2 linked regions of the Homo sapiens genome follow. The protein of the gene in region 2 interacts with the protein of the main gene of each other region in a pairwise test. Each region holds a gene or a part of one and is shown on either strand. Other genes may lie near its edges.

The links.
Region 1: the proteins of CREB5 (region 2) and TSGA10 interact in binary tests that used the Homo sapiens proteins (3 or more experiments, as listed by UniProt).

What each region holds. Positions count from the first base shown.
Region 1 is NC_000002.12:99,102,941-99,106,595, reverse strand, and holds part of TSGA10 (testis-specific gene 10 protein), read left to right. Parts: intron 1-898; coding exon 899-1,069; intron 1,070-1,159; coding exon 1,160-1,237; intron 1,238-2,477; coding exon 2,478-2,629; intron 2,630-3,512; exon of another isoform or gene 3,513-3,655. UniProt on the Homo sapiens protein: Plays a role in spermatogenesis. When overexpressed, prevents nuclear localization of HIF1A.
Region 2 is NC_000007.14:28,814,388-28,818,042, reverse strand, and holds part of CREB5 (cyclic AMP-responsive element-binding protein 5), read right to left. Parts: intron 1-3,655. UniProt on the Homo sapiens protein: Binds to the cAMP response element and activates transcription.

The DNA of each region.
Region 1 (3,655 bases), on a different chromosome or scaffold from region 2:
AACCATTGGCAATAGTTATAGACCATGGGACTTTTTTTTTTTAATGTGTCGCAGGAAGAAGAGACATAGGATGGTAAATTGGTCAGCAGGATCAAGTGACAGGTTTTCAAGATAAGGGAGCACTGTACATGACTGAAGGCAGGGGAGAAAGTGCCAGTGGAGAGGGTACTATTCAAGATGAGAAGAAATAATTATAATTGAGTCAGGGAGATCTTAGAAGACACTTTAGGAGATGAGGTTTGGGGTTCTGGTGAAGGCTTAGCTGTGGAAATTGGGAAGTTATATATTTTCCTTTGGGGCTTGGAGACTATCTGAATAGACAGTGATCAAAATCAAGAGGAAAAGAGACCTGTGCAGCGAACTGTGATATTAAATAATCTGCAGGTTTGGAATAGATTTGGGACCCAAGGATGGTTGAACAGACGTGCAGAGACTCTGTTGGGTTATCAGTAAGGATTGGTGGGCCTTTCTGTCAGGGCAGAAGTAGCCAAGACATAGGAATGGCATATGCATTTATATTTAGGAAGACTGAAACACTATGATAATATTCATTAAACCGGTAGTCTGTCTAAATTGTGCTGAATTTAAATTTACACTACAAAATGAATAAATGGAGTATACCAAATATATTTCTTAGCAAAACATTCTCTGTTGCAATGACTTCCTCCAAATTAATTTTATTTTAGACTTTTGGCAAAGATGTTGTAACATGAACTTCTATTTAAATATATTCATTTTCATTTATTTGTATAAGCTTATTTTAAAATAAAAGCGATACCATTACCCTGCTGCATGCATGTTGATGTAGGTTTGCATTTTAACTGGCTAGATACATAAAATTTTTTATGTTTATGTGTTCTAAAGCTTGTTCAACCAAAGTCTATGATTTAAATAATAGGCACAGGAAGAAATTACCCGACTTCGACGAGAAATGATGAAAAGCTGTAAGAGTCCTAAATCAACAACGGCACATGCTATTCTCCGGCGAGTGGAGACTGAAAGAGATGTAGCCTTTACTGATTTACGAAGAATGACCACAGAACGAGATAGTCTAAGGGAGAGGCTAAAGGTTGGAAAGGATTTTATTTACGTGAATATATGTGAAACACAAATTCAGGGATATTGAAATCACTTTATTTTGTTTTTGCTTTTTAATCAGATTGCTCAAGAGACAGCATTTAATGAGAAGGCTCACCTGGAACAAAGGATAGAGGAGCTGGAGTGTACAGTTCATAATGTAAAAAAAAAAAAAAAGAAAAGTCTCTTTTGGCTATAAACACTCAATGGCTTTCCCCTTTCTCCTTTTTCTGTATTCAGAGAAGTTATTTTATTTTTCTAAGATAGTGTTTATAGTCCTAAAATACTTAAGGTATTTTATAGTGTAAATTGTCACTTTTTCATTTGTTTATTTCCTTCTAAAAATGTGAGTAAATGTTTTTTGGTGTTAGGTTGCAAAGTATGTACTTTAAAAAAATCATTAGGCATTCATTTTCAGGGATCTTATCTACTTTCTCATCTCCATATTTTGTTAAAGATAATATTGCCAGATGTAAAGAAAATGGTTTATTCTACCTAAAGAGTGGATAAGGAGAGAAAATTATGATGAAATAAAAATTATAAGCAAAGTTTATTTAAACTAAATTTAAATGTGAAACATCACCTTTTTCCTAATCAGATTTGATATTGCTACGAATATATATTGATGATATTGTCACTATATAAACATAAGAGAATTTAACTTTCTATTACCAAATATAATTGAATATATTTATAAGTTCATCTGTACTGTTTTATTGTAATGAGTTAAAAATATGAGATAGGGGCTGGGCACGGTGGCTCATGCCTGTAATCCCAGCACTTTGGGAGGCCAAGGCGGGTGGATCACCTAAGGTCAGGAGTTTGAGACCAGCCTGACCAATATGGTGAAACCCTGTCTCTACTAAAAATATGAAAATTTGCCAGGTGTGGTGGCATGCGCCTGTAGTCCCAGCTACTTGGGAGGCTGAGACAGGAGAATTGCTTGCACCCGGGAGGTGGAGATTGCAGTGAGCCGAGATCGCGCCACTGCACTTCAACCTGGGCGATGGAGCGATACTCTGTCTCAAAAAAAAAAAAAATTACTAGACAGGAGAAAATAATTTTTGTTTTCATAATTCTACATTATATGTGTAATTTATTAATGTTGGGCAACAAATAAATTCTTTTGCAAACAGCATATTTATACTATAGTCAAATTGAACCAGATTGAAAAATATAGACTGATATACTGTGATAAGCTTTACTTTGCAGTGGCTTTTCCTTGGTCCTACTTCACAACACCTTATCTGTAAAACCTTCTACAGCAGTCAGGTCTAACCTGATAATCTCATCCTGTCAGTCTTGCCATAAACCAGTTTGTACAGAGGGAGTATGCCCTTCAGGAAGATTACTAAGGTGTTTTTAGTGATGGCAGTAACCTTGTCATTCTACTTGTATAGCTTGATGATGAACGTATGGAGCAAATGTCAAATATGACTTTGATGAAGGAAACCATAAGCACTGTGGAAAAAGAAATGAAATCACTAGCAAGAAAGGCAATGGATACCGAAAGTGAACTTGGCAGACAAAAAGCAGAGAATAATTCTTTGAGGTAAACTAAATCACCTTTAAACAACCAACAGTTTACTATAACTATAGCTCTGCTTTTTATAGTGTATTTTATAATGAAAATTATTTGTTGAGTTCAGTTTCTGAGAGGATTATTGAAAAGCAGTTGTAGGAACCCTTGGCACACAGTGAACAATTTTCCTGAGCTCAATCACAGGCTGGTAATGCCACACTTAACTAGGAATCACACTTCTAGTAATCTTACTTTACATTTGTAAAAAACTTCAACTTTTAACTGAAATAGCTTTTACAAAGCTCTTCTGGGTACAGAATATATTTGACTTTGATTGTTTACCTTTATAACTTTAAATTCTGTTTGGGGATATGAACAGTATAAGAAAACACAAAGCACAGGTTTGGCAGTTGCTTAGAAAAAGGGTGATTTAGAATATAATGAAAAGCCGTAACAGAGAAATAGGAGCACGTGATGGAGCATCTATTAATTGAATGCAAGTACTATACTTAGCCTTTCCTGTGTACTGGCATGGTTGCCGAAGATGTATCAATTGAAGCAGCCTACAGCAATAAGCTTGGGAGAATGAGTTTTTGAAGACCTCTACATGAGTGGTTTTACTTTTAGTATCTGTTGCTGTGAGAAACAGAGGTTCTACAGATTCAGTAAGGTTGAATTTCATTGCATCTATGAACATTGAAAAATAGTAATAGCTTAATATCTAGGTGACGGGTTGATCTGTGCGGCAAACCACCGTGGCACATGTTTACCTGTGTAACACACCTGCATGTTCTGCACATGTACCCCGGAACTTAAGAAAGAAAAATAGTAGTTCACACTCCTATTAATGCTGAGATTACAGGCATGAGCCACCGGGCCTGGTCTTTCTTAACAATTTTTTTTTTTTTTTTTTTTAGTCATAAAACCAATTATTTAATTGAAGCTATAAAAAAGGCAGTATAAGCGATAAAATAATTAGGAAAGAATATTTAGCATGTTTCAAAACATTTAAAATAGGAGCAGAACATTTTACAAAAAGTTGTACAGGAAATTAAA
Region 2 (3,655 bases):
TGAGAAGACCAGAGGATACAAACCCACAGCCCTGTGCACTTTCAACAACAAAACTGGCAAACTCTTCCATTATGTCTAAATGACATTAAGAATATTATTTAATGTGGTTCACCTGAAAGTTTGTAGCTTACCTTTAATTTGGCCCTCACATTTCCCAGGGGCTTTCTGCAGAGCTTAGGTTTTAACTCAAGAGCTGAACCTTATTAAAAGGCTAGACCACACCCTTAGGTGATGGGAACCGAAGCCAGGTGAGAATCCTTACTCCACACTGACTGTGTGACCCTAGGTAGATTACATAACCCAGCTGAGCTCCAGCAACCTCGTTATAAGATGGGGATAAGAAGAGTACATTATTTGTGTTACTATGAGGATTAAATACAGTAATAGATGGGAAACAGAACAATACCCAGCACATAATAAGGACTTAATACATTTAACTATTGTAACCTTCACAAGCTCAGGTTTACATCCAATTGAGAATGTGAATATGAGGCGCACATTGGGCAGAATTATGTGGTAGGATTTGTGGCTTCCACCTGAAATGCAATCAGAATAAGCTGACTCATCTACCATCAGATTTTCCAAAAGAAGTCTGTGTTGCTCAATCTAAAAAGAATATCTGAAAATAAATTGACCTTCAGTCATGAATCCCTGCTCTCCCCACCATCTCCTACTCAATTACTGTTCATGGGATACTGTTGAGCAGAGCACATCTACCTGCCTGATGCCCACTGAGCAGGAGGTATGGAAGCATACAGTACACATGTTGGTCAGCTGCAGGTGGATGATGTCAGCTCAGGGTGGCAAGGAGGCAATGAAGTTTTGGGCCATGATTGAATTAATTTGATTGAGTTCATTGATTATTTGGTCAATTTCGGTCTATAAAATACTCTTTCCCCCCTCAATATCAGGATATTGTGGATGGTGTGGGGTTTTCTTCTTATTTACTCATGTAAGTGCCTCGGATCTCTACTTTATCTGTTAATATTAATTCACAAAGGCATGCTCATAGCTTTGTAGAATAATGAACTTGGCACCCATTGTCTACAAATATAAACATAAAATAGATGGTAGCTCCGAGATGCTTCCACTTGATAAAAGTGAACGTAAATGTAGCACTATCTTGAATAAGCCACTTAAAAATTGTGATCAATAATATCCTCTCTTTGGTCAAGGTTTATTTGTGGCTGCCAGGCATTATACCTCACATGTAGGAGACTTAAAAAATGCATGCACACCGAAAAGGACGATTAACATTGCTGTCATTAAGTTGTACCTACACTTTCAATATGAACTTGGCTTTTCAGCCATGTATTTATCACCTAGGAAAGTATGTTTGGGATTCTAGAAGTTGCGCTAAAAAAAATTGAAATCTGTTTTAAGGAATATCTCCCATTTCTAAATTTCTTGGTGAAATAAATTATAAGCAACCACATATTGAGTAACATTAATAACAAAAATAATAAAATAAAACAATGACAAAATAATAAAAATCTCATCTACAAATCTCATCTCATTCCCTTTCTCTTCCAAACTTTATTTTTACAAAATAAAAATGACTATTTGGGAAATTAGCCTTAATGATGAATAAATCACTTAATCAAACAAGAAAATTGCTCTTACATCTCAGAACATACAAGAAGGCAAATTGTACCTCCCAACTCCAAATGAATGTGATTGATAAGGGGCTCTGTGGAAACCAAAAGTGACCCTGTCAATTCCAAGGTCAGTGGGATAACTTACAGGACAATTTATTTTAGCCTTAAACACTAACTTCTTCCTCTTTGACTTTACACCTATCTAAATTCAGATGGCCTTCCTTCTTTTTCTCAGTTCTCCTTCTGCTCAAAATAGCACATATAAAAGAAAGTCACTTCTAGACCATCAAATGAAGGCAATCTCTGGTTAAAAAAAAACAACCAAACAAAAACCAAGAAAGGAAACAGAGATGTGTTTATGTGTGTGTGTGTGTGTGTGTGTGTGTGTGCGTATATATTTGCTTCAGAAGGAAATGTCATATTATTTGCATTTAGACTACAGAAATAACACTTTTCTGAAATCGAAACTGCTAGACACCTTGCCCCCTGAGTAGAAGCTCTCAGCTGCAGATAATGTAGACAATGGATCTTAGAAAATGGAATCAAGTTCTAATTTCTAGTGAATCCACACTTTTCTACCTAGAAAACAAACAAGAAAAGTATTAAAAACAAAACTGGGTTCTCTTGCTTTCTTATACTTTTGGAAGAAAAAACACCCCTGCCTGTGGCCATCTTGGAGAGGTTGAATTTAGTCTCCATTTCTTCCCCCACTATGTCCTGGGCAATGAAACCCTTTCTTGGCAGCATTCGATCTCCCAGGCACAAAGTGTTCATTGCCCCTTCCCTAAGAAAACACTCAATTCTATTCTCTGGGTTTCTACAGTTAGCAAAGAGCTAACTGCCTATGATATTTGGCATGCCCCAAACAGTTTCACAATAAATTTTTGCTTTCATAAGTCTGTTTTACTATAAAAAGAGCACTAGTCAGCACATGTGGTGCCCTGGCCTATCACCAAAACCCCATACAAAGTATATGACTTTGGTGGCATTTAGTCTATGAACAGCAAAACACTTTATTAATAAAGCAATATGTTGTAAGTACAGAGACCAAAGGCCTGAGTGTTGTGAGGATCTGTAAAAATGCAGAACCCTGAGAATATTGAGACAACTGACCATCATTTAAAGATATATGTGAATATGAACATATTCTTTTTTTCTTTTTTATTGTTATAGAGACAGGGTCTTGCTATGTCGTCCAGGCTGGACTACAGTGGCACCATCATAGTTCACTGCAGCCTCTACCTCCTGGGCTCAAGCAATCCTCCCACCTCAGCCTTCTGAGTAGCAGGGACTAGAGACATGTGCCACAATGCCCACCTAATTTTAAAAAATGTTTTGCAAAGATGGGGTGTAGCTATTTTGCCCAGGCTGCTCTTGAACTCCTGGCCTCAAGTGATTCTCCAGCCTCAGCCTCCCCAAGTGCTGGGATTACAGGCATGAGCCACTGTGCCTGGCAGGACATATTTCTTAATGTAACATGTTAATACTTATTTAGCCATGTTATTGTGGGAAAATGAACACCAATTAATGTCCTCAGTAGAGAAGGGCAATCAGCTTCTTGTTTATCCATATACATATAACTATGATGCTGCAAGGACTAAATAAAGGCCTAATAACCACATAAGCCATAGAAATTCATGGGGCAGCATCCAGTAGGAAAAGGAACTCTCACTTGAGAGTTGAGAATAATAGGGTTTGAGTTCCCAAGCTGCCATGCCAACCAAGTATAAAACACGATGGTTGAACTACTTCCAGAAAGTTCCTTCCAGAAAGAATTTTTTTTTATTCTACAAGCAATTCTGTGTCACCTTCTATTGAGAAAGCAAATTACCCAATTATCCAATGAAAGAGTCCATCTTGACTTTTATTCATTACTTAGCTACTTTCAATATGCTCAAATATGCTTATAATTCAGGTCTTATCTTTCATAAGGGAGCCAGTTCTAGCACCTCTTATGCTTCTAAATCTTAGTAGGGCAGATTCCAAAGCAACATTTATAGTTTCATTTTAGAGCAAAATTTTCTATGTCCATTTATGTGTCCATATTACTGAGAGAG